4 linked regions of the Homo sapiens genome follow. The protein of the gene in region 1 interacts with the protein of each later gene in a pairwise test. Each region holds a gene or a part of one and is shown in the gene's direction. Other genes may lie near its edges. The genes, in order: CALML3, IQCN, IQCB1 and C11orf65.

The links.
Region 2: the proteins of CALML3 (region 1) and IQCN interact in binary tests that used the Homo sapiens proteins (3 or more experiments, as listed by UniProt).
Region 3: the proteins of CALML3 (region 1) and IQCB1 interact in binary tests that used the Homo sapiens proteins (3 or more experiments, as listed by UniProt).
Region 4: the proteins of CALML3 (region 1) and C11orf65 interact in binary tests that used the Homo sapiens proteins (3 or more experiments, as listed by UniProt).

The regions. Positions count from the first base shown.
Region 1 is NC_000010.11:5,520,718-5,527,275, forward strand, and holds CALML3 (calmodulin-like protein 3), read left to right. Parts: upstream 1-4,243; 5' UTR 4,244-4,368; coding exon 4,369-4,818; 3' UTR 4,819-6,054; downstream 6,055-6,558. UniProt on the Homo sapiens protein: May function as a specific light chain of unconventional myosin-10 (MYO10), also enhances MYO10 translation, possibly by acting as a chaperone for the emerging MYO10 heavy chain protein.
Region 2 is NC_000019.10:18,271,425-18,278,467, reverse strand, and holds the start of IQCN (IQ domain-containing protein N), read left to right. Parts: upstream 1-4,015; 5' UTR 4,016-4,065; intron 4,066-7,043. UniProt on the Homo sapiens protein: Essential for spermiogenesis and fertilization. May be required for manchette assembly in elongating spermatids.
Region 3 is NC_000003.12:121,832,048-121,839,343, reverse strand, and holds the start of IQCB1 (IQ calmodulin-binding motif-containing protein 1), read left to right. Parts: upstream 1-4,283; 5' UTR 4,284-4,378; intron 4,379-4,864; 5' UTR 4,865-4,953; intron 4,954-7,296. Other genes in the region: EAF2 (ELL-associated factor 2), read right to left, coding at 2,550-2,688. UniProt on the Homo sapiens protein: Involved in ciliogenesis. The function in an early step in cilia formation depends on its association with CEP290/NPHP6.
Region 4 is NC_000011.10:108,401,516-108,408,543, reverse strand, and holds part of C11orf65 (protein MFI), read left to right. Parts: intron 1-1,394; coding exon 1,395-1,448; intron 1,449-1,580; coding exon 1,581-1,781; intron 1,782-2,984; coding exon 2,985-3,115; intron 3,116-7,028. UniProt on the Homo sapiens protein: Acts as an inhibitor of mitochondrial fission. Interacts with MFF and prevents DNM1L recruitment to mitochondria, promoting a more fused mitochondrial network.

The DNA.
Region 1 (6,558 bases):
ACCATTAGCCATTTCTCCTGATCCTTTCACTCCTCCCACCCTCCACCCTCCAGTAAGCCCCAGTGTGTGTTGTGTTCATGTGTTCTCATCATTTAACTCCCACTTATAAGTGAGAACACGCAGTATCTGGTTCCTGCATTAGTTTGAAAGAATAATGGACTCCAGCTCCATCTCTGTCCCTGCAAAGGACATGATCTCGTTCTTTCTTATGGCTGCATAGTATTCCATGGTGTATACGTACCACACTTTCTTTATCAGTCTATCATTGATGGGCATTTGGTTAATTCTATGACTTTGTTATTATGAACAGTGCTGCAATGAACATACGCGTGCATGTGTCTTTATAATAGAGCAATTTATATTTCTTTGGGTATGTACCCAGTAATGGGATTGCTGAAAAATATGGTTTTATGTGAACAAGTAATGGGTTTATTTCTATTAAGTTATAAATATATAAAAATATACTTAAATATTTAAATATTTCTTGGTTTTAGTTGCAAACACAGTATATATATATATATATATATATCCCACATAAACACAAGCTCTTTGGAGTCCCCAATAATTTTTAAATGTTTAAATGTATCCTGAGACCAAAATAATATCTATTCTGTAGGGAAAGGAGTTGCTATATTGGGGTGAGAGGCTGCAGGGAGAGAGTTAAACAGAAAATAAAAAACATTCCCTCTGTCACAGTTTCCCAACCAGCGAGTTGCAACAGTATGGCCCATCGTAAGGCGGTCCTGGTCCTCTGTGAGTCACTTTGCACTAAGCAACGCTGTTTAAAATTCTGAGTCCTCTTTTTTTTTGAGACAGGGTCTTGCTCTGTCTCCCAGGCTGGAGTGCAGTGGCACGATCTTGGCTCACTGCAACCTCTCCCTCCCTGGTTCAAGTGATTCTTCTGCCTCAGCCTCCCAAGTAGCTGTAGCTGGGATTACAGGCACCACCCACCATGCCTGGCCAATTTTTGTACTTTTAGTAGAGACCTTTAGTAGAGGTTTCACCATGTCAGCCAGGCTGGTCTCGAACTCCTGACCTCAAGTTCAGGCCTGCCTCGGCCTCCCAAAGTGGTAGGATTATGGGTGTGAGCCACTGCACCTGGCACTGAGTCCTCTTTCAGTGTGCCTTTTTGAGAAGGACATTTAGGTAAAAGCTAATGTTTGAGCCACAGAGCCATGACCCAGAAACCAGCAGTTACCTGTTGGCTTCTCATCCTGGTCGTTGGTCAAGTGGGCAGGAGGTATGACCGTATTCCTGTCCTTGTCCATCAGGGCACTGTCTCAGGCCAGGTTTCCCCCTGATGCCATCCGGGGCTCTCCAGAAGACTGTGTCAGCCACATGTCCGAATCCCTTGGTGCTCCTGTCTCCTGTGACTGTCCCTGTATTCCTTCATGAAGAAGTCTCTCCAGCCCCTAGGCAGGGAAAGTAGAAGAAAAATGCTTCATAGCATCTTTTCCACTAGATGGTCACTCTGGCAGTCAAATAGGGGGTGTGGTTATTGGCTATTAATTATTCTGCTTTTCTATACATAATAATAGCTATGCTCACCATAGTCTCATATCTCTGAGAGATATAAAGCTGACAATATTACCAGGCCCTCCACATTACCTAACCTCAGAGAAAGAGAAAGAATATTGGGAGTTCAGTAAGATATGGAATATTTTTTATCAGGGATGGTTTTTGAATCTTCAGTCATTTCCCCTAATAATAGAAATGATATATGGCAAATATAAAACATTTTTAAATGAGCAAAGATACTACATTTATAAGAAAATTAAAAGCACTTATAATCCTATTATCCAAAGTATCCACTATTAAGAGTTTGGTACATGATTATCTAGGCGTTTCTTCTGTGAATGTATATAAATAAACATATATAAATGTTTAATACATGAAATCATATCACATATACAGTTTTCTATCTGCTTTTTAAAAATTTTCCATGGAAACCTTTCCATTGTTATATCCTCATCCTCATTTTAAAGGCTGTGTATTATTTCATGGTGTGGAGGAAATTTCAGGTATTTGTTACTAACCTGCTATTTTTGGGTATTCGGGTGATCTAGAGCGGAGATATTTAAATATTTTTAAAGTGCGTTTGGGATATGAATTCTAACACTCAGGCATCAGGCACCAGTGTACAATCAAGAGCCCTTCTCAGAAGGTGACAGAAGGTCCCCATGTCCCAGAATTAGCCCCCAAAAAACCCCAAAATAAAAAAGGGACCTTGATCCCCAGCTGAACTTTTCATGGGGTGACCTTGAGCAAGCTGTGTGTGCAGCCTTTGCTGGGTCTCCCCACCACAAAAGAGATCTCCAGAATATTCGAGGAAGGGCGGGGCTCCCAGGAGCAAAGCACACACTCTTTCTTGCGCAGCCCCCTGTGGACAGAGCTGTAACCTGGGCCCAGGGCATGCTCCCAGCCTGCAAATGGAGATGCTGCCTCATTTTTCTCTCTAAATCTAAACTTTATTATCAGCCCCTCTCCTACCCCAGGGAGTCCTGGCCAGCCCATCTCCCCACTCCCCTAGAGCTGTTGGGGTGTGAGGTCTCAGGCAAGGCCGAATATTCTGGGGTGAGAAAGGAGGGGAGGGTGGGATCTGGTCACCAAAGTGTCACCCACACACGTGGCTTCCAAGATGCCCATCACCTCGTTCCCTCCACGCCACCCCTGGGCCCCAGGGCTCTTTGCCAAGGCTGCCTGTGGCCACCACATCCCTGAGCCCTGCTGCTCTGGGGTCCACAAACTTCTCTTCTAAGGAAAAGATTCCATGGGGATGGAGGGATTCTTCAACCTTCCTGCTTCCTCCTGCCCAAACCCTCAGGACACAGGCTTTGTGGGAGCCCTCAGGTAGGAAGGAAGGTGTCTTGCAGGTGGCTTCAATTTTCCCCCTACCACAGACCCCCTCCAGACCAGAAGGACACACTTGCCTCTACTTGAATAGAGAAGGGAAGGAAAATCAGAGAGAAAAAAAATGAATATCCGAGCCCTTCTCCTGCCATAGTCTCTCCTCGGCAAGTCCAGGTCCTCAAAAGGACACTTTCTTTCCCTTTCCGGTCTCTACCCCACCCCCACACACCCAGCAAAAAATAGAGTGGGCTCCATGTTTCTCCCCCAGTGTGGATTTCTTGGATTCCCACAGGTGAAGCGCCTGCTCCTGCCTCTCTGGGGGTCATGTCTCCAGGCCCCCTGGGAGTGGGAGCCGAGTCTGTGCTGTGAACACCCCACTATCCCCCTAAGCGGGTCTCCTCTGGGAGAGGCCGCTCCACAGCCCCAGCTCCATGCTGCCCGGAGCTCCTGGGGCAATGTGGACCAGAGAATGATAGTGGGACTTCCTGGCTGAGCCCTTCAAGGTCTCCTTTGTCTCTCCTCCTTGTCCCCTCCCTCACAGGCCTGCAGCCCCACTGATCATCTTCCAGCCCTTGGCCCTGCCATGGCCACTCCGGCCTAGACAGCTGCTTCTCAGCAGGAGGTCTGTCCTTGACCAGGCTGAAAGGTGACCTCGGGGTCCTGTCCATCACCACCTTGTATGTCCATCAGCATTTATCAATAATCCCTAGTCACCTTGTTTGCATTCCTCGATCAGTTGACCTGCAAACTAGCTGTCTTGCTAGTTAACCTCACGAGGACTGGGGGTGGCTTGCCGGTCCCACTGTGTTCCCAGCTTCCAGAGTGACACTGCACCTAGTAGGCACTCAAATATCTGTGAAAGGGTGGATGAGTGAATGGGTTGGAGGAAACCCCTCCCTATTCATGTCCATTCTGAAGATAAGAAAACTCGCTGCTTCTACCTGAAGGGAAAACCTTCCTCCTCCAAAAACCCTCCTGTTCTATATGAGGCTTTAGAAACCAAAGGCAAGGACGTTTCTTTCATCTGCCTTTCATCCTGCAAAAAGCCCTCCACTCAAGGGAAGAAAGGGCACTGGAGTTTATTGAGTGGGAGACAGGCGGCAGGTGGGAGACGGGGAGGGAGGAGAGAAAGGGAAATTCAGGAGGAAGGAGTCCAGCGTGGATTGCTCCAAAGCTCACCCACCACGCCCTGACTGCAGGTGTGATTCGGGGCCCCCGTGGCTCTGCTGGGTCCAGGTGCAAGCAGGCACAGAGGTGCTGGCGTCAGCTCGATTCGCAGGCCCTGGACTCCTGTCTAAACAGGACAGGCCCGGGCAACCGCAGGGCAGGGGCGTCTGCCAATGATGGGGGAGGACTCTGCTGCTTCTTAAGCTCCAGCGTCTCAAGCCAGGGCGAGACAGCCCGCCGGCCGCCCGGATCTCCACCTGCCACCCCAGAGCTGGGACAGCAGCCGGGCTGCGGCACTGGGAGGGAGACCCCACAGTGGCCTCTTCTGCCACCCACGCCCCCACCCCTGGCATGGCCGACCAGCTGACTGAGGAGCAGGTCACAGAATTCAAGGAGGCCTTCTCCCTGTTTGACAAGGATGGGGACGGCTGCATCACCACCCGCGAGCTGGGCACGGTCATGCGGTCCCTGGGCCAGAACCCCACGGAGGCCGAGCTGCGGGACATGATGAGTGAGATCGACCGGGACGGCAACGGCACCGTGGACTTCCCCGAGTTCCTGGGCATGATGGCCAGGAAGATGAAGGACACGGACAACGAGGAGGAGATCCGCGAGGCCTTCCGCGTGTTCGACAAGGACGGCAACGGCTTCGTCAGCGCCGCCGAGCTGCGACACGTCATGACCCGGCTGGGGGAGAAGCTGAGTGACGAGGAGGTGGACGAGATGATCCGGGCCGCGGACACGGACGGAGACGGACAGGTGAACTACGAGGAGTTTGTCCGTGTGCTGGTGTCCAAGTGAGGCCGGCGCCCACCATGCTCCTGGGCGCCCACGCGGCCCACAGGGCAAGAACCCGGGGCCTCCCGCCTCCTCCCCCATCCCCCTGCCTCCCCTGGGCACTGTGGCTTCCTCCTGCGCCTGGTTGATTCAGCCCACCTCTCTGCATCCCGCTTCCCGCGTCTCTTCTCTGCACTCCTGCCGACCTTCCCACCTGCTCGTCTGAATGACACGGAACGCTCCCACTGCAGGCAAACCGTGACGCCCTCCCCACTCGGGAGAAGCAGAGCTGACCTTAGGACCGAGCACCAGGGCAGGTTGCGCTGACTCTGCGGCCCTCCAGGACGGACACCGGGTGACCCCTTAGGGCACCCAGGCAAGATCCCTAAGAGGCACCCAATGCCCAGGCCAGGGGGGCTGCAGCCCTCAGCCCCCGCCAGGATTCCCGCAGGCTCCTGGACTGGAAGCTCCCTCCGCGGTCGGATTCTGGAGGGTGGGAGGCATCTTGGCCTGCAGTAAGCGGTGCTGACGGGGACTCTGGCCACAGAGGTCAGGCCTCCTGAAAACAGCACTGCCTTCCGCGCTGCCCCAGCTTGCCCCATTCCTTGTCCGCCAACCCACCGTGATTCATCTTCTGAAGCTGGGAGTGAAACTGGGTCAGCTGTAACCTGTTCCTATTCATCTGGAAGGAGGGAGGCTTGGATGAGCAGGGGATGAGAGCTGCAGGGAAATAAATGAGATATTCGTCCTTATTTCATTTCCTTTTTTTTTTTGGTTTCCATGGAAATGATCCTTGTTAAATTCAGGGTTGAAACGAGGCAGGAATCTCCATTTTTGTGCTTTTTGAAAATGCAATGAATTCCTATACGGGGGAGCGGGAAAGGTGCCTCAGAGAGAGACAAGTCTGGATGAGGGAAATATTGAATATTCTCAATCAAATGGATACGCTGGCAGCAAAGAGTGGTTAAAAGTCCATCAGGACTTGAAAGACCTGAGTCCATTACGTTGAGAAGGGACCTGCTGATTGCTTTGATTCCCCCTGGCAAGTGCTCCCTGGTTGTGAAGTGCCAGGCACTAGAGATGGTGAGGGGTTGGGGGGCAGTTGGGCACACACAGTGTAAGAGCAATTCAGAGCCGTTAGTCCTGCACTAGCCCTGCAAGCTGCTGGCAACACCTAGAGAAGGTCGAAGGGGCCCTGCCAGAGATCCCTTCAATTCTAAAGGGAGGTATGTTTTGCGGGATGGGCACTAGACGGAGCTCATCAGAAAAGGCCATGGTGGATGTATCCTCTCTCCCTGACACCCCACCCCCGCCCACCAACACCCAGTGTTTCCTCCTTTGTAAAACAAAGAGCTGGGCCCCAGCCCCGGCCTTGCCATCATCACTGCACCACTGGGACCTCCAGGATGACAGGACCCTCATGCCACCTGCTTGGGCTCAGGGCACCATCAAGCACTTGGCCTGCATAGACAATTGGCACCTCCCTATGGGGCAGCCACTATTATTACCTTCCTCATCTTACAAACGAGGAAGTGGAGACACAGAGGGCTTTAGAAAGCAGCCCTGGGTCCCACCAGTGGGTAAGAGGCAGACCTGGGATTTCAGTCAGGTCTGTGCCCTGACCACTCAGCTACAGGTCTGACACCAACCTGTGCCTCCATCATGGTAACTACGGTAGCGCCTCTCTCCAGCACTTGTGAGGAGCCAGAACAACATTCTTAACACACCTGGCATGTAGTAGGTGCTTAATAATGGCAGCTACTG
Region 2 (7,043 bases), on another chromosome or scaffold:
CCCGCCTCGGCCTCCCAAAGTGCTGGGATTACAGGCGTGAGCCCCCACGTCCGGCCAGGGTTTGGTTTTTAGCTGTCACGTTGCCTTGTGGGAGGTCATGCAGACGTTTCAGCAGGGCCTGAAGGAACCTGCTGAAGGGAACTGAGGCTGAGGTGGGAGAGCAGGGGTGTCTTGACACACAAGAGACCAAGAACCACATCTCGGGCAGAGTGTCACTGGTTGGGAGACCGGGACCCAGCTTAGGTTCCAGTTGGCATTTGTGAGATCTCAGGCGAGTCCTCCTCCCCCGATGGCCTCTACATCCTGTGCTGTGAGATGCGGGTGTTTGCATCCAGCATAACATCTCTCAGGTCAGAAGTCAGAACTGGGAGGTGCTCAGGGGACGGACAACAGTGACCGCACTCAATGATGGTACCTACTGTGGCCCCCAATTAGTAGAGAAGGGGAAGGGAGGTTTTGAGACTTGCCCAACACCCCTGTTTTTTTTTTTTTTTTTTTTTGAGACAGAGTCTCGCTCTGTCTCCCAGGCTGGAGTGCAGTGGCGCAGTCTCGGCTCACTGCAAGCTTCGCCTCCTGGGTTCATGCCATTCTCCTGCCTCAGCCTCCTGAGTAGCTGGGAATACAGGCGCCCGCCACCACGCCTGGCTAATTTTTTGTACTTTTAGTAGAGATGGGGTTTCACCGTGTTAGCCAGGATGGTCTTGATCCCCTGACCTCATGATCCGCCCGCCTCGGCCTCCCGAAGTGCTGGGATTACAGGCGTGAGCCACCGTGCCCGGCCAACACCCCTGTTAAATGGCAGAGCAGCGATTCAAACCCAGGTCTCTTGCTTGCCTGCCCCCAAGTGGTCTAAGGCGAAAGGACTCTGAGGAGCCCTGCAGAGAGGTGGAGGACGTACTTTGTTTTTCTTTTTTTTTTTTGAGACTGAGTCTTCCTCTTGTCGCCCAGGCTGGAGTGCAATGGCCTGATCTTGGCTTACCGCAACCTCCACCTCCCAGTTTCAATCGATTCTCTTGCCTCAGCCTCTTGATTAGCTGGGATTACAGGTGTCTGCCACCATGCCCAGCTAAATTTTTTTTTTTGAGACGGAGTCTCGTTCTGTCTCCCAGGCTGGAGTGCGGTGGCGCGATCTCAGCTCACTGCAAGCTCTGCCTCCCTGGTTCATGCCATTCTCCTGCCTCAGCCTCCTGAGTAGCTGGGACTGCAGGCGCCCGCCACTATGCCCGGCTAATTTTTTTGTGTTTTTAGTAGAGACGGGGTTTCACCGTGTTAGCCAGGATGGTCTCGATCTCCTGACCTCGTGATCTGCCCGCCTCAGCTTCCCAAAGTTTCTGGGATTACAGGCGTGAGCCACCCTGCCTGGCTAAATTTTTTTTTGTATTTTTAGTAGAGACAGGGTTTCACCATGTTGCCCAGGCTGGTCTCGAACTCCTGACCTCAGGTGATCCACCCACCTTGGCTTCCCAAAGTGCTGGGATTACAGGCGTGAGCCACTGGGCCCCACAAGTTTGTTTTTTTTTTTCTTTACAAGATGAGGTCTCGCTCTTGCCTTGGCCAGAGTGCAGTGGCAAGACCACAGCTCACTGCAGCCTTGACCTCCTAGGCTCAACTGATTGTCCTGCCTCACCTCAGCCTCCCAAGTAGCTGGGACCACAGGTGCACGCCACCATGCCCTACTAATTTTTATTTTTATTTTTTCTTTGAGACGGAGTCTTGCTCTGCCGCCCAGGCTGGAGTGCAGTGGCGCCATCTCGGCTCATTGCAAGCTCCGCCTCCCAGGTTCACGCCATTCTCCTGCCTCAGCCTCCTGAGTAGCTGGGACTACAGGCGCCTGCCACCATGCCTGGCTAATTTTTTTGTGTTTTTAATAGAGATGGGCTTTCACCGTGTTAGCCAGGTTGATCTCGATCACCTGACCTCATGATCCGCCAGCCTTGGCCTCCCAAAGTGCTGGGATTACAGGCGTGAGCCACCACGCCCAGCCGCCCTACTAATTTTTAAATAATTTTTTTGTAGAGATGGGATCTATGTTGCCCAGGCTGGTTTTGAACTCCTGTGTTCAAGTGATCCTCCAACCTCGGTCTCCCAAAATGCTGGGACTACAGGTATTGAGCCACTGTACTCGGCCTCTTTTTTTTTTTTTTTTTTTTTTTTTTTTTTGAGTCAGGGTCTCTCATTCAGGCTGGAGTGCAGTGGTGCAATCTTGGCTCACTGTAGCCTCCACCTCCTGGGTTCAAGTGACTCTCCTGCCTCAGCCACCAAAGTAGCTGGGATTACAGGCATTTGCCATCATGCCTGACTAATTTTTGTATTATTAGTAGAGACGAGGTTTTGCCATATTGGTCAGGCTGGTCTCAAACTCCTGGGCTCAATCGATCTGCCCGCCTTGGCCTCCCAAAGTGCTGGGATTATAGGCATGAACCATCGCGCCCAGCGTCCCCAGCATTTATTGACACCTAGTTGAGGCCAGCCCTCCAGTCTGATGGGGGAGTCAAGCAGGCATGAGCTGTGATGTGAAGGGCTTTTTCTAAATCACAGATCTGACTCCTTACTTGAAACCTTTTTGGAAAAAGTCCTGACTGCACCAGTCCCTGGGCTGGCCAGTGTCTCCTTTCAGGAGCCTCTCCACCCAAATTCCCAATATCCTGCCTTCCTGGCCTCAGGGTCTTTGCACGGCTGCAGCTGTAGTTCTGTGCCAGCTACTCTTCCCCCAGTCATGCAGCTGAGCGCCACCTCCCAGCCTCAGCTGCACAGTCCTCGGAAGCCTGTCCCTAGTAACCCTCAGGCTAGGCCAGCACCTTACTGGGCTCCTACGGTCTCCAATTGCCCTGAGAACTCCCAGTTTGTGTTTAGCTCGTTGACAGCACAGAAGGGACCTGTTCTGATGAAACATCCAAAGGATGAGCTGGGTGCAGTGGCTCATGCCTGTAATCCCAGCACTTTGGGAGGCCGCAGCAGGCGGATCACTTGTGGTCAGGAGTTTGAGACCAGCCTGGCCAACATGGTGAAATCCTATCTCTACTAAAACTACATAAATCAGCTGGGCGTCATAGCATGCACCTGTAGTCCCAGCTACTCAGGAGGCTGAGGCACGAGAATCGCTTGAACCCGGGGAGGTGGAGGTTGCAGTGAGCTGAGATCGTAGCACTGCACTCCAGCCTGGGCAACAGAGCGAGACTCAATCTCAAAAAACAGACAAAGGATATAAACCCCACCCAACTGCCATCTGCCATGTCCCTGATTTTGTCCAAAGTCACACCCACAGTATAGGGAAGGTTTTGGAGGGGGTGATCGCTGCAGAGGGAGGTCAGGCACCCCTGCTGGTTCTTGTCCCGGCAACCCCCAGCGGCTCCCCAAGGAAGCCAGGCAGAGGCTTCTGGGCCAGGCTGGCTTTGGCTGGAGCCAGCTGCACTGAGTCCAAGGTGCGTGTCAGCCTTGGCCCAGCCAGCGGTGACTCATGCTGGGCCCCAGCCCAGCCCCAGGAGGTGATCCAGGACAGCAGCCTGACTTCCCCTTATAGCGCTGCGGCTCAGGGTCAGTACCCACTTTTGCCGGGCCCAGTGGGGATCCCAAGAGATCAAGTCCGGCCCCACCCCAAGGAGCCCGCAGTCTCAGAGCCACACCCAAGACATCAGTGAGAACCCTGACTGGCCCGTTGCACCCCCTTTTTGGTCCCTTCCCATCTAGCCATTTTACAGCCTCAAATTCTTTGAGTTGTTTGTATCCCCAGACATGGGGCAAATTCCAGCATATAGTAGGTGCTCAGAAAATGCCCGTGGGATGAAAGACTGAAACTGCCTCTAGGTACATGGAGGGGGAGATTTGGGGTTCCCTCTGTGCTGAGAACCCTTTGTACTCAGGATGAGCCGGTGTAGGTAGCAACCACCATGACCTTTGGCCCTGCCCTGCATCCTGTTCCCCAACCTCTGGCTGTGCCTTCTAGAATCCCCACCCCCTAAGAGCTGCCAGGGATTGGCCAGAACTTGGCTTTGAGTCACAAAGCTGCTGCGGCACCAGGGCTCCAAGACTGGCCGTTCAGACTGCTAGGTTTAGCTTCAGGGGCAGGTGAGTGGGGCTGGTGGCTTTGGGGGCGGGTGAGTGGGGCTGGTGGCTTCAGGGGCGGGTGAGTGGGGCTGGTGGAGGACTTGTTTGCGAGGGTTCGTGGGGGACCCTGTCGTTCTCCTCTGGCCCCCAGTGCCTTTAGAGCCCTTCTGGGCCTTCTGGGTGACTGCAAATGATGGGTCAGCTCCTTGGCCCCTCACAGCAGGGGCTCTAGGGACCTCTAAAGCCTTGATGGTGGATTTGTTCACCTGTGATGGGGGACATCATGGAGAGCCTGTTATGTCTCTTTATTATTATTTTTTTAAATAAATAGAGACATGTTGCCCAGGCTGTTTTCAAACTCTTGGGCTGCAGCGATCCTCCCACCTTGGTCCCCCAAAGTGCTTGGATTACGGGCAGGAGCCACTGCGCCCAGCTGAGCCTGTTGTGTCTCTTTGGCAACCTGAGGATGGTGATCTTATGTCTTGTGACAGATAGGGAAATTGAGGCTCAGAGGGGTTTACTCAAAATTACCGAGCCAGTCGCTTGGCTTCTGTGTCCAGGGGGCCCCTGTTCCTTCTTCTCATCCCCCACAATCCCGTTTCTCACCCCTTCTGGTTGAGTTCCTCTAAAGAGCTGCACCGTTTGGTTGATGAAACCTCAGCCCCTGGAATGGGCCCATTCAGCTCCCAGAGCTGCTGTCTCCCGGGTTCAAGTGATTTTCCTGCCTCAGGAGTTCGAGACCAGCCTGACCCATATGGTCAAACCCCATCTCTACTAAAAATTCAAAAATTAGGCCGGGCAAGGTGGCTCACGCCTGTAACGCCAGCACTTTGGGAAGCCAAGGCGGGCAGATCACCTGTGATCAGGAGTTCAAGACCAGCCTGACCAACATGGAGAAACCCCATTTCCACTAAAAATACGAAATTAGGTGTGGTGGCGCATGCCTGTAATCCTAGCTATTTGGGAGGCTGAGGCAGGAGAATCGCTTGAACCTGGAGGCAGAGGTTGCAGTGAGCCAAGATGGCGCCATTGCACTCCAGCCTGGGCAACAAAAGTGAAATTCCGTCTCAAAGAGAATAATAATAATAATTAGGCCGGGCATGGTGACTCATGCCTGTAATCCCAGCACTTTGGGAGGCCGAGGCGGGCGGATCACTTGAGGTCAGGGGTTCGAGACCAGTCTGGCCAACATGGCGAAACCCCAACTCTACTAAAAATACAAAAGTTAGCCAAGTGTGGTGGCAAGTGCCTGTAATCCCAGCTACTCGGGAGGCTGAGACAGGAGAATCACTTTGAACCTGGGAGGCGGAGGTTGCAGTGAGCCAAGATCGTGCCACTGCACTTCAGCCTGGGCAACAGAGCAAGATTCCGTCCATCTCAAAAAAATAAAAATAATAAATATATGTGTGTCAATTATCCATGCATTGCCTCTTGTCTCCGAATGGACCCTTTCAATATGTGATAAACAAAGGAATTTCTTTCGTTATGTCTTGTTTAAAGTGAGCACAATGCTCGGCCAGGCGCGGTGGCTCACGCCTGTAATCCCAGCACTTTGGGAGGCCGAGGTGGGCGAATCACGAGGTCAGGAGATGGAGACCATCCTGGCTAGCATAGTGAAACCCCGTCTCTACTAAAAATACAAAATATTAACTGGGCGTGGTGGCAGGCGCCTGTAGTCCCAGCTACTCAGGAGGCTGAGGCAGGAGAATGGCGTGAACCCGGGAGGCAGAGCTTGCAGTGAGCCGAGATGGTGCCAGTGCACTCCAGCCTGGGAGACAGAACGAGACTCCGTCTCAAAAAAAAAAAAAAAGTGAGCACAATGCTAAGATTTCTCAATAGAGGGCGCTGGTGAGGCATTAGGGATAGAGGTGTGAAGACACCAGGTGAAGCCTGCCCGAGCCCTGGATCCAGAACGTGGTCCTGTGACTTTGCAGTCTTGACCTGGTGAAAACCTTTCTGCAGCCCTCTCAACACACACAAAAAACAGAGCCCCTAAGGCCGGGCGCGGTGGCTCATGCCTGTAATCCCAGCACTTTGGGAGGCCAAGGTGGGTGGATCACCTGTGGTCAGGAATTTGAGACCAGCCTGACCAATATGATGAAACCCCATCTGTACTAAAAATACAAAAATTTGCTAGGCGTGGTGGCAGGTGCCTGTAATCCCAGCTGCTCAGGAGGCTGAGGTAGGAGAATCGCTGGAAACCGAGAGGTAGAGGTTGCAGTGAAAGGAGATCGCGCCACTGCACTCCAGCCTGGGCGACAAGAACAAAACTCAAAAGAGAGAGAGAAAAAAAAAAAGGCCAGGCGCGGTGGCTCACGCCTGTAATCCCAGCACTTTGGGAGGCCGAGGCAGGCGAATCACCTGAGATCAGGAGTTTGAGACCAGCCTGGCCAACATGGTGAAACCCCGTCCCTCCAAAAACAAAACAAAACAAAACAAACAAAATTAGCTGGGTGTGGTGGGATTCATGCCTGTAATCCCAGCTACTCGGGAGGCTGAGGCAGGAGAATCGCTTGAACCCAGGAGGCGGAGGTTGCAGTGAGCCAAGATGCTGAGTGCCGCTGCACTCCAGCCTGGGGGACAGAGTGAGACTCTGTCTCAAAAATCATAAATAAATAAATGATAATAAACGAACAGAGCCCCCACGGTGGCCCATACACATTGAAGGCCTCCTGCCCCAGCAACACTTAGGTTTCCAGTGCACATCCAGAGCACCAACTGTTGATAACCTGTTCCCACATCTGCACCCTGGAGGGTGGGCCTTTTGCTTGTTTTGCAACTCCAGACCAGCTCTGGCTTGGCCGATCCAGCAATTATCTCCGTTAACTTGTTAGGCGGGACCATACTTTCTCCAAGGAAGTCTGAATGCTCTCCAAATTTGCCCCTTTTTTGGGGATACTCCCTCAGCCCTAAAGTACCACATAGAGTTTCCTTTTATCTTTTTTTTTTTTTTTTGAACTGAGTTTCGCTCAGTCACCCAGGCTGGTGTGCAATGGTAT
Region 3 (7,296 bases), on another chromosome or scaffold:
AATCATAGTCACACGGAGGATGAATAAACCCAATCTCATAACTCTGCTCCACCCAACTGCTGCCAAGAGAAGATATGGGATCAATGTTGCCAGCTTATCATCTGATTTTTAAAGATAAGCTGAAAATCTAGATTTTTTATATAAAAGGTCCTGAATGTTAGGTATTTGCAACTAACTCAAGATAAAACAACAATGGTGTGGACCAAACAAAGCACTTCTAAAGTCAAGCTCAGCCTATATGCTATTAATCTATAACCTCTGTTTTAGTGTTTATGAAGTGATTTTTTTCTTTACAATATACTATCAATTTTAATCTTCACAAAAAAAATTTTGGGTTGAACATTTTGCCCACCTTTTACTAATGGAGAACTCCTCTAAAGTAATGAAGTCAATAAATGATGAAGTCAGGAACTCAAGCCACATAATTTATCTCCTCATATTATATAGCCTGTTTGTCTTACATCCACAGATCTTAACTTGTATGTATGTGTATGGGGAGCAGTATTAGGAGATGAGAGACAATCATAAATCCATCCCTATGAAAACCTGATGAAAATTATAGACCAATCATTGATCCTCTCCACAGAAAAATACATATATGAACATACATATCAAATACTGTACAATCCCAAGGGGTTCACAGGTCCCTGAAGACTACATAGATGCCTATAGTATATGAGATTATCTGCAAGAGACAAATGTATGCAAAATATCTTTAGCTTTACTTAATGATAAACATGAATTCATAATCAATAAATCTGCCAAAACTATTCTGAATCTATTTACATTTCTAATTATTCTACTGTTAGGATTAATAAACTCTACTCTTTATTACCCATTATATCAAGCAGTGTTGTCTTTTGTCCTCACACACTTTTTTAAAAGTATATAACTTCCGAGTTTCAAGTGGTTGAGTTCCAGAATTAAAGAATTTGCTGATTAATCTCATATTCATACTTTCTGTATGCTTCTAAATGTCAAACATATTCTCTTCCAAGTTGCTATGATTCCAGACTAAATAGTTCATTTCTCAGTTCTCCTTGGTTTGGAAACCCTACCACCAACTTTACCATTTATTTATTCTCTCTGGATTTCTTTCATCTATGCAATTTTTTCAGGTTTACAATGGAATTACTTATTATATTGCATGAAGAGTAGAAAACCATTTTCTACTTTGTATTTAATACCTTTTCTGCCAATGTTTATCGCTTTTCTGATTATTTTAACTGTAACATCACATAATGCCAATATTTTCATAAGAATCCACAATTATTATCATCAGTTTATTTTCCGGGATTTGAATGAATTCAACCAACTCCAAAACCCACACTGCTCATTAGCTCATCATTTAAGGACACAAAAAAGTGGTGTCATTTACAAACTTAGGATTTCACAATTCATTGCCTTATCTGGATATAAATAGTAAAACTAGTACTACTCCCAATTCAAAATTGATTCTAGTAGGTCCTGTTATTGAAACTCTTCTACCCGGTAAAGCACCTGTTGCTAAGCATTCAGCTTATCGTTGATAGAACATCCCATGCCCTTCCTACCACATGCCAGACTATCTTTTTGATAGTTTTTATTGCTAAACTCTGATAAATGCTGTTTCAAAGTCTGACTAAATTACATTCATTAGCACCCCTCGTACACATATGAATATAACTCTTCAACATTAATGGTGACTACTATTTATTCTCTACCCTGTGGCAAATATTGTTCCAGGTTGTTTATGCTATCTTATTTAATCCTTACACAAACCATGAAATGTAAATATTACTATTATCTTTTAGCCATAAGAAAACTGAGGTTGAGAGCTTAGAGAATGTTCCCAAAGTCACATTATATATATAGGTGGTGGAGACCAGGATTCACATCCGGGTTTGCCTGAAGTCTTATATCAGACAGGCAGAATTGCTCCTGTAAATAAAGGCAGAATATTACTTTCTCTCCAATGACATTGGCTTGAGGGTTGGTTATAAATTAGGTCCCCCTTATCTGCATGAACATCAGCTTCATACTATTCTACAATTTTCAAACCTCACTCTGAGTTCTTAAGAGTGAGGATTACATTGGAAATGAACCTGTCCTCAAGAATAATAAACAGTTTTATTTAAATAAATCTAAAATGATTCTGTGCCATTACCACACCTGCTTCAACAACAACAATAAAAGAAAATAAGGACTGAAAACTTTTCTAATAGTTCTGTCTTCCACAGGACTAAGTGTGTATTCAAACATGTATGTTTGTTTATTTATTATTGTCATTATTGTTGTTTTGCTTATTTTTGTTTATTTTCATTCTGGTAGCTGGATCATCTGATCCTCTGACTTTCAAGATACTGGCATTTTCAGAACCTTTATAAATGAAAGGCTGTGAAGGACCTGCAAGATTATTTTCAAAGGCAATTTTTTATTCATTTAAATTGGGATTTGTGCCCTACATAAGAGAATATATACCCAAATCATATAGAAATATATTCTTAAGCAAATTTTTATAATCTTAAGCCCTTGTAACTTGAAAAATTAATATTAAGACTATTGCATACCTGAGAAGGAAGAGAAAAGGAGAGAGTAGATACTATTTGAGAAAAAGGCATGGAAAAACCAGATAAAGACGCATATCACACTTCCGGAAAATGGGACTGAAGAGAGAGAAACTGCAGAGCCAGCACAGCACCATCTCATCGTGGGGAGCTCTGGATGAGAAAGTATATGATAAAGAAGAATAAACAAGGGACACTGTTGAAGAGTTTCTGTTCACAAATATCTCACCCATTTATTCTACCAATTGGATGTTAATTTTGCTTTAAAAAAACCCTTTTAGTAAATATATTCTTGCAGGGTTAAAACCAGTGGTTCTTCATACCTTTACTTTGAGTAACTATAACTAAATTGTCTACAACTTAAATAAACTTTTGGGAGAATGTATGCTTTAATTAGTTGTTTTGATTGAACCATGGAACATTTCAGAGTAAAAACCATAAAGGTCTCTAAACAACCCGAGAACAGAATGACTGAGAAAGGCGGAATGATGAGATATTAAGGAAGGGCAAGGCTGGGGAAAGGAAGTGAAAAAATACTTACAGTTTTACCACAGAAAAATGAGAAGTTATAATTCAGTGATCTTGAAGTTTCCTTCCCGCTCTACAATTCTATGACAGTTGTTATGCAAAAAACGAATGTCTTACACATAAAAACTTATATGCTATATTTTCCTTCCTGGAATCTATATCATCCAACTGCTAAAGCAAAAGAGCTCCTTTTTCTACTCCAACAACATAAAAGAGAATAATTTATTAAAACTAGTTCCAGAGGACATAAAGAAAACCAAAGGGTAGAAATCATAGGGAGGTAAGCATCTTCCAAATAAAGAAATTAATAACACACCCTCGAATACTTTGATAATCAGTATTTGATAACTGAGTGAAATCTGGGGTCCAAAGAGATATACAGATCATTGGGATGGTTGAGAATTTCTCCCTTTGCAAAGAACACACCAAATAAGAACCCTCATCTGCCAGAGGTGAGAAAAAGTGATGAAAAGAGAGAATATTGCCCCACCAGCCTCAAGGCATTCAAGTTCCCCGGCATTCGGTCCTTAGTCCCTTCCCATTTGTCACCTTATTATTTTCCTGTCCACCCCTGCATCATCCACCTGTCACGTCTGTCTCCACAGTCACCTCTACAGACTTTTTTCACACTTTCCCTTCCTGTCTGCTGGTCTCAACGCTCTCTGTCCAGGGTTTACCCACATTTGCTCTACTCCGATTCCTTCCACCGACCCCCTAAGACTCCGAGCAGGTTAGAGGATCGCGCTGCCTCCCCCCTCCCCGCCCCGTAGTCTCCAACAGTGTAAGGGGTACTGTGGGAACAAAACCCAGAGGGGTTTGTGCCTCTTCACCCCCATCCCGGGAGGCTCCCCCTCTATCCCCGGATGGTCCTCACTCACAGCGCACAGTGTGGAAGGCGCAGCGCGGCTGCTTCTCGAAACTCTCCCCTAACTTGAGAACCCGCTCGCGACGGTCTAGGTGTGAGAATCCCGCTGCGCTATTCATAATTACTCTCCTGCTTTGACTTTAACTCCGCCACCAGCGCTCACTATCTGCCACCTCAGCCTGAAGCAGCTGCACTTGATCCCGCCAGCCAAGTCACCCAGACTCCACCCCGCGCTCGACGCGCACCGCCCCACCGGAGCGTCTCACGTTCTGATTGGCTTATTAGCAAAGGGCGCTCCGCCCCTTGACTCCGAGGCTCCTAGTCCCGCCTCCAGGCCCCTTCCCGCGTCGCGACGCACGCTGCCCCGGAAGGCCGCGGCGCTGTAGTGCGGCGTGGGAGCCCCAGGTTCTTTAGTGGAAGAACGCGAAGCGAGGATGAGGTAACTTATCTGAGGTGGTGGCTGGGGAGGGAGAGGGCCCCAGGGCGCCTACCAGGAGGCCAGGACCCCAGGCTCCTGGACGAAGTCAGCCGGCTTGTAAGAGCTCTTAACGGGAGAATCGGCCTGCCCTCACGCCCACTCTGTAGAGATCTGGTGTGGAAACTGAGGCCTGGGGAGGTGCAGTGTCCAGGCACAGGGCCTAGTGTCTTATCCAAGGCCTGGTAGCGCGAAAGCCGGGTCTAGAATCTGGAGTAAAGGAGCCCAGAGGCCCCAGAATCTCGGTCCTTAGACTTGAAGCGACGCTGTTACCTCAGTAATCGTTTTCTGACCTTTTTGTACCAGAGGAAGTTTCTTGTGGTCCTAGGACTGGAGAAGGGGATGTGTAGTGGGGAGGAGAAAGAGGATTCGGAGATAGCAACTGCAGACATTTAGGATCAGCCGCAACAGGATCGCACTGAATTTCCTTTTCATTTATTTTCCTCACAGTGATCCGTGGAGGCAGTAACAGGCGCGGCGAGGGAGAAGTGATTCCCGAAGAATCAAGGCTGGGCCGGACCCGGTGGCCTGGCAACAGGGTAGTAGCCTTAAAATAGATAAATAATTGTCTTTTTGTGTCAAATTTCATGAATTTAATGTAAAGATGGGAGAAGTGTTGAATTATAGGAGAAACACTCGAGAAAGTTTACAGATGGTTTCCATAACAGGTGGTTTTTCAGGGTAATTACGCAATCCAACTGCACTCCCTCACCTTCTGCCTTAGGCACATTTGTCAATTGATTTTGGGGTAGGTGGTTATGTCTCCTTCAACCTGTCTGTGTAAATCCTACCCTTTGAAGGTGTGCCGAAGCTGTTTCATATCGTAGTTAAATGCTTTAAGGCAGATGGTGGCTCTAGTTTGAACCCCTGCTTTATACTTAACAGTGTGACTTTGTGCCAGCTAATTACATTCTCCAGAGTTTAAGTATGCTCATTGTTCAAATTGGGAAAAAAATAATAGTATCTGTTCCTTAGAGTTGTTGGAATGATTAAATGAGTTAATACATGAAAGCAATTAGAACAATTCCTGGAGCATGATAAGAGGTCTCCAAATGGTTATTTAAGGCCCAGCTCTACACTTATACTACATTTTAAGACCATCTTGGTGGCTGCCTTCTCTTCTAAATAGAATCATTCTAGGAGGTAGGAATTGCTATTTTGTTTACAGCAAGAAAAATGGTTCAGAGAAGCCCAGTCCTCTGACTTTATGGCCTGTATTCTTATCTGTGTCATCTATTTAGCATTTAACATATATCTGATATTCTTAAGTATATTTTTTTGTATCTGTGTGTGTGTACACATGTACATAAACATACTTTTCTTTCCCAACCAGAACAATAGCAGAGAGTATGTCTTGTGTAGAATCTTTGCATCCCCTGCATCTACCATACTGCTCTGCACATATTTGTTGATGACAATAATGATTTAGTGATGTTTTATTACGGTAGCCAGGAGGGCACAAACTGTTTTGAGCCTATTTTACGTTAGAGAGGCTTCCAACTATAAATCTGAGCTTTCTCTATTGTAACAAGAGAAAAACAGAAAGTCAAGAAATTGAGGCTCAGAATGCCTGAGGTTTGTGCATTTACTCATACTTTCAACCTGTATTTAGCAAATCCTAGTACGTGCCAGGTACTAGTCTAGCCACTGGGAATACAGTTGTGAACCAAAGATATAAGAAGGCAGCCAGCAAAGATGGTCTTAAAATGTAGTATGATGGTAGAACTGGGCTTTAATAATAACCATTTGGAGAGCTCTTACTATGTGCCAGGAATTGTTCCAATTGCTTTCATGTATTAACTCATTTAATCATCTCTAAGGGATAGGTAGGTTGCCCTCATGAAGCTTACCTTCTGAGGTGAATTTTCTCCAAACATATATTAAAATGAACTATGTTGTACTAGCTCAAGAATAGACAAACAGATTAAATTACTAGAAACTAAGTAGAGTCCAAAAAGATACCCTGTGTATGTGTATGTATACATAGTGCATGAAAATGTGACGTTTCAGATTGTTTCTGTTATGTCTATTCATAACTAGTTACCTTATGAATTTATGACTACTGTGTGCATTTTTTAATCCATCAATAACTTTAACATTAAAAATTAGATTCTTATATGACACCATTCACAAAAATACCTTACTTTAGAAGATATGTAAGGAAAACAAAACCAAAAAAACATGAAGATTTGGAGAATGTTTTTTATCTCTTGGGTTAGAGAGGACCTTTCTAAACAGGACACAAAAGACAGATGCCATAGAGGAAAAGATTGTTATATTTCATATGTAAAAATTGTAAAAATGGCTGGGCGCTGTGGCTCATGCCTGTAATCCCAGCACTTTGGGAGGCCGAAGTGGGCAGACCACTTGAGGTCATGAGTTCAAGACCAGCCTGGCCAACATGGTGAAACCCCATCTCTACTAAAAATACAAAAATTAGCTGGGCACGTTGGCACACGCCTGTAATCCCAGCTACTTGGGAGGCTGAGGCATGAAATCACTTGAACCCAGGAGGTGGAGGATGCAGTGAGCTGAGATTGCACCACTGCACTGCAGCCAGGGTAAACAGAGTCAGACTCTCTCTCAAAAAAAAAAAAAAAAATTGTAAAATTATGGTAAAGACCCCATAGTCAAATTTAAAAAAATAAATGACAAGGAGAAAATTTTACAGCCAATATAAAAGAGAAAAGATTCCTATCCATGTATGAAAAGCTTCTGCAAAAGAATAAGACAAACCGATAGAAATATAGTCAAGGGATATGAATAGAAAATACATAAAAGAAATAATGGCCAGTGAACACGAAATGTGCCTGACATCCCTAATAATCAAAGAAATACAAATTAAAACACAATCATACCAATTTTCATCTAACAGATTGGCA
Region 4 (7,028 bases), on another chromosome or scaffold:
ACACCACACCCAGCTAATTTTTGTATTTTTAGTAGAGACAGGGTTTCACCATGTTGGCCAGGCTGGCTTTGGAACTCCTGACCTCAAACAATCCACCCTCCTCGGCTTCCCAAAGTGTTGGGATTACAGGTGTGAGCCACCACGCCCGGCCCAGAATTTTAAACATGGATTTTTAAATTTAACAATAGCTAATTAGGAAAGGTCATCTACTGTTGAATTTAGGTTGATCAGTCATAATTTTTTCTTTGAATTTACCTGCAAGATAATATTTTATATGTAATATTTGAGGAGTTATTTAAAAGTTAAGTTTTATGACTAAAAAATTACTTGGCTTTTATGTTTATATATTGCATAAAAAGGAAACAGTTTGGTATCATTTTTTCATTTACCATAGATGTCCATAAGAAATTAAGTCCTTTTAGTGGGTGCAGCGCACCAGCATGGCACATGTATACCTATGTAACTAACCTGCACATTGTGCACATGTACCCTAAAACTTAAAGTGTAATAATAAAATAATAATAATAATAATAATAATAATAATAAAAAGAAATTAAGTCCTTAGCTCATAAAATATTTTCTTTTCTTTTCTTTTTTTTTTTTTTTTTTTTTGAGACAGAGTCTTGCTCTGTCGCCCAGGCTGGAGTGCAGTGGGGCGATCTTGGCTCACTGCAAACTCTGCCTCCTGGGTTCGTGCCATTCTCCTGCCTCAGCCTCCTGAGTAGCTGAGACTACAGGTGCCTGCCACCATGCCTAGCTAATTTTTTGTATTTTTAGTAGAGACGGGGTTTCACCGTGGTCTCGATCTCCTGACCTCATTATCCACCCACCTCGGCCTCCCAAAGTTCTGGGATTACAGGCGTGAGCCACCATGCCCGGCCTCATAAAATATTTTCTAATTACAAAAAAAAAATTTTTTTTAATGGCTGAGCACAGTGGCTCATGCCTGTAATCTTAGCACTTTGGGAGGCCAAGACAGGAGTATCACTTGAGGCCAAGAATTCGAGACCAGCTTGGCAACATAGGAAGACTCTTGTCTCTACAAAAAAAAAAAAAAATACAAAATTAGCCAGGCATGGTGGTGCACACCTGTAGTCTCAGCTATCTGGGAGGCTGAGATGGGAGCATCGCTTGAGCCCAGGAGGTTAAGGCTGCAGTGAGCTGAGATCATGCCACCGCACTCCAGCCTGGGCAACAGAGTGAAATCCCATCTCAAAAAAATTTTTTTAACAATTTTTCTAATTTAAAATTGATTATTTGAGGTTGGTTCACCTGACTGATTTCCTAAATAGTCAATATTTAGCAATTATTTAAAATAATAGAGTGAGAAATAGTGAATTGATACATACAGAATCCTGAAGAATAATATATAAGAATAATATATTTTCTTATAGGCAGAGCTTCTAGATGCTGCTGCTGGCATTCATGTGCGATTCAGATTAGGTGGAGTAAGTATGGATGAATGCTTATTTAGTAGTTATAAAGCACATTTTTATGAAATTGAAACAATGTAATTTTTCAAAATGTAAAACATTTTTGTAGTTACATTACAATGGCTCTTTGAACTTTTCCTTCTACAGGTTAAATTTCCACCTGATATATACTATAAGATTTTTACTCACAGACCTATTGAAGATCTCTGTGCTAACAGCCCTAGAAATTATGCAAAACTTCCAGCAAAGCATACATCTCATAATAAAAATGATCATCTTCAGGAAGAGGATCATAGTGGCTGGTATCATCGTATAGAAAACAATGGCTGGAGGCCAGTTTCTGATACAGTAAGAAAAGAGAAATGTTAATTTTTAACCTTACGTATTTAGAAACCCATTTGTCTTTTCAAAAATTAATTTTAAAATTATTTTTTAAAATAATAAATCCTAGTAATTTAATTGATAAATTTTGCTTAAGTTAGCTACTCAGGGGTTGCTAATAATACTTCAAGGCACAGCAATTTATCTTTTTCTTACTACATTTATTTCTACTTTTAATTATCAGCTTTGAATCTAGACCATCTTTAGATACTCTCTGGTACTCAGCAGATTATATACCCAGTATACGGATTGTAGAATTTGGTATGTTGAATATATTAACACTAAGTATGACCAGGCTCTGTGGCTCATGCCTGTAATCCCAGCACTTTGAGCTGAGATGGCACCACTGCACTTCAGCCTGGGCGACAGAGTGAGACTCTGTCTCAAAAAACAAACTAACAACAACAACAAAAACAAACACAAAAGAATATACCAAGTATGAAAAGTGAAAATGATCAAGGTATGAATTCATTCATTTGTTTAATAATAAACTATTGCATATCAACCATATACCAGACATTGTTCTGGATGCAGGGGATAGACTTAAGTAGTTTGCCTTTCAATTAGGGAGACAGTCAAGTAAACAGGATATTTCAGTACAGTGTGGTAAACATGTTAAGTGGTTTAATAAGGGCAAATATATAGTGTTTGGAAGGATTAACAAACTTTCCTTATTATCTAGGGTATGTGTGATAGAGCAGGGGGAATGAGTTGGAAGGGGGAAAATAGACAACCAGTTAGGAGAAAATGTCATAACGGGGAAACCACAAAGTCTTAGGACATGGTACAGGGACTTCTGCATTCCTGAAGGGTGGCTGTACTCCTTGAGGATTAGAGTCATCAAAAGCCATCAGCACTAAGAGTAGGTCAGGTCTATTCATGTGAGAAGATGAGACACTCTTAGAATATATCTGTTTATTTATCCATTCAACACTTATTAAGCACCTCAGTACACTAGTACTTTGTTGATCTATCTGTAGCATGTGCTTCTGAAGGCTGAGTGTACTACTCACCCATCACTTAATTAGAAATACCTTGAAAGTATCTATCCTCTCCTCTGTTTCTATCTTGCCATATTCCTACTGAACACATAGAAGTTCTTGTCTATTGCCAGATAACCTCACAATCGATATTTCAACATTTTGTATGTTCATTTTTGTTTCTCAATAGTTTTGGCTATCTACTGATGGTATGGTGGTGGAAGACAAAAAGGAAAGTGAATTCCATTTCTCTAAACTGAAGAGAAGGCAAGATTTGGAAAAGAAAAGAAAACTTAGAAAAATAGAGTGGATGAGGCAAATGTAAGTTGATGAAACACTTACTAAGGAAATACGTAGTATTTTGGGAAAAAAACAAATTTGAAATGAGGTATTGCTCCTCACAAGAGGGCATTAGCTGCAGGGGGTCTGCCCGCAGACCCTGACCCAAACGACAGATGAATAAAACGCACACTGACACACAGATATTCTGTTTTGCCAGTCCTGCTGAGTGTCCAACCGCCTACACACCAAGAGAGGCTTGTCACTGCAGCTGGCCCCAATCAGCTAGGGAGACTCATATTTATTCATTAAGATTAGTTAACAAAAGTTTGAGTGAACGCCATTAGAGGCTAACTGACATTGTGGACTTCCCGAGTAAAAAGCACACATCAAAGGCTTGTCTTAAGACCGCATGAGTAAACAAGCTAACTAGGTAAAACTTCGCCACATCCCGTTGTTTACTACTTTAATCTTTTTAACTAAAGTTAATGGGACCAGGCCGCCTTCGGCCCGGTCTGTTACCGAGGTCATGTGAAAACCCTCAGGCCTTCCAAAAAGGTTTTGTGGCCATCATAACTAATATTTTTCCCAGCAGCCTGATCGAATCCCAACATTGGAGAACTATACTACTTGATTTCAAGACTTATAAAGCTACTGTAATCATGACATTGTGGTATTGGCATATAGACAGAAATATAGGTCAATGGAACAGAATATGGAATTGTGAAATAAACCCCCATGTGGCCGGGCGCGGTGGCTCACGCCTGTAATCCCAGCACTTTGGGAGGCTGAGGCAGGCAGATCACGAGATCGGGAGATTGAGACCATCCTCGCTAACATGGTGAAACCCCGTCTCTAGTTAAAAATCCAAAAAAAAAAAAAAAGAAAAGAAAAAATTAGCCGGGCTTGGTGGCAGGCGCCTGTAGTCCCAGCTACTTGGGAGGCTGAGGCAGGAGAATGGCGTGAACCCAGGAGGCGGAGCTTGCAGTGAGCAGAGATCGCACCACTGCACTCCAGCCTGGGTGACAGAGCGAGACTCCATCTCGAAACAAACACAAAAAAAAGTATCAAAGACAGAAAGTGGAAGTTACAAGGCTTTTTAAGGCCTTATCTTGGAAGTCACAGCAACATTTATTTTGCATTCCATTGGTCAAACTCAAGTCCTAACAGGCCTAAGGGGGTCAAGTAAAAGGTGGGACTCACAGGAAGTTCCATATACATTACAGCTTCACTTGCAGTACAGAGGGGAAGGGAAATCCTACTGGGACAGAACCTCAAGTAGCATACCTGGTTGTATATTGTGCCTGAAAGAAAAGATGGCCAGAAGTATAGATCTATAGATGGATGGTGATTGATGGATGGTTTGACTGGATGGTCAGGGATTTGGAAAGAACATGGTTAGAAAATTGGTGACAAGTGGTCTGGGGAAGAGGTATGTGCAGACTTCTCCAGATGGGCACCAAGTGAGAAGATGCTTGTGTCGTATGTGAATGCTCACCAAAGAACAATCTCAACAGAGAAGAATCTTAATAATCAGGTGAGCAAGATGACTCATTCCTTGGAATCAGTCAGCCTTTCCCCCCAGCCACTGCTATCCTCGCACTATCCAGCCTGGGCGACAGAGCGAGACTCCGTCTCAAAAAAATAAATAAATAAACCCCCATGTATATTGTTAATTAATTTTCAACAGAGGTGCCAAGGGAACTTAATTGGGAAAAAATAGTCTTTTCAACAAATTGGATTTTCAAATGCAGAAAAATGAAACTTGAGTGTTCTCTTACAGCATGTGTAAAATTAACTGAAAAGAGATTATAGATCTAAATATAAGAGCAAAAACCATAAAGCATCTAAAAGTAATTGAAGGAGAAAATCTTAGTGCCTTTTGTTCTGGCCAAGATTTTTTAAAGAGGACATAGAAGTCAGGAACTATAAAAGAAACAATTTTAAATTTTACTTTATCAAAATTAAAAGCCATAGACCGGGATAAAACATTTGCAAAATATATATCTGACAAAGTTCTTGAATCAAGAATATGTAAAAAAAAAAAAAACAAAAAAAAAACCTCTCAAACAATCACATTTTAAAGTGGGCAAAAAATTTGAATAAACACTCCATCAGTGAAGATACATACCTAGCAAATTAGCATAACTCAACCAGTGACTATGATTAATCATTAGAGAAGTGCTAACTAAAATGATAATGAGATACCCCTACACACCCACTAGAATGACTGAAATAGTCTGTCATGCCAATTGTTGGCAAGGATATGGAGCAAATGCAAATTAGAATGTGTACTTCAGAAAACGGTTTGACAAGTTTTTTTTTAAACAAGTAAACACACCAAATATTCTACCTAGTCATTCCACCCCTACATGCTTACCCAAGAGAAATAAAAACATGTCCACAGAAAGATTGTATGTGAATGTTCATAGCTGGTTTATTTGTCATTTTAATTGCGAAAAACCAGAAACAGCACAAATTTGCATCAGCAGGTGAATGGATAAGCAAGTGGTAGGATATCTACACAAAGGAATACTACGCAGCAGTACAACAGAATGAACTACTGATAGACAGAATGACATGGACGAACCTCAAAATAATGCCGAATGAAATAAATCTATCAAAAAAGAATACATACTGTATGATTCCATTCACATACAATTCTAGAAGACACAAATCTGAAGTGACACAAATCAGATCAGTAGTTGTCTGGAGATAGGAAAGAGGAAAAAGAGAGGGATTCCAAAGGAGTACAAGGAAACGTCAGAGGGTGATGGATAGATTTATTTTTTATTGTAGTGATGGATTTACAGGTATATAGACATGTCAAAACTGTACATTGTACAATTTAAATATGTGTAGTTTATTGTACATCAACCATACCTCAATAAAATAGTAAAAAAAAAAAAAATTAAAAACCTGTGCAGAAAATCAGAAGACCTCCCTGGCAGCTCTGAAGTGGTCCTTTATCTCATAGTCACAGCATGGGTTGAGGGCAACCCTGGGTTCCATTGCAAGGGTCACAGGGTTACAATGCCTACAGTACTACCAAATGCTTAACTCTGCCAGGTCTTTTGCACTAAGATAAGGGCACTAGTGGGGAAGAAGTAGAACTCTGAGGCCTGGGATTAGGACATTTGGGCAAACATACACAAGGCTAAGAATCTTGAACTTCCAAAGTGCCTTGTTGGTGTAGGGAACCCTTACTCTCCCTTTTGAGGGAAGCGGCCCTTTTCTGCATAAAAGCCTTTCAGTGACTGCACTGGCACAGTTGCCACACACACTTAAGCTGATTCTCCTCAGGATTCCCCCTCTACTATTTCTCATTGCCTTTAGCTCACAATGAGATTTGTATTTCAGGACAGCCCAGACAGAGGTACAAGGTCCACTCCAAGAGGAGATAGTTTATAAACCAGAACAGTTACAAGAAATTACTAATCTACATTGCCAGGAATCTCAGAAGCATTGTGTGAGGGTGGATTCTAAGGTTGTTAGATCGAGAGTTGGCTGGGCCGAACTTACTGATATGGCCATACTCACCTGGGATTGTGGATTTAATGCTTTGGCCAGAAATTATGTTAATGGTCTGTTAAGTTAGCTAATCAAAGCCTGATTTAGGTAGAGCCAACCAAAGTTCTACCTTTGCAAAATGCTGGAACTTCTCTGGTATACTGTAGTGTAGCAGGATTGATAAGGAATCAGAGAGACCGATGGGGTAGAGGAGGATATTTGTTATTTTAGGTGTACTGGCCCAGTCGGATTAACATCCAAAGGACTGAGCCCTGAACAAAGAGTTAAGTTACCTTTTAAGCATTTCATGGGGTTGGGGGAGATCTGTGCAGGGGGAAGCATATTACAGAAGCAAGAAACAAAGATAGTTATTCAATTAATTGAGAAGTGCATTACATCGTTTCTTACTTTTCAAGGAAAACATGTTTTATGACTTGAGTTTATC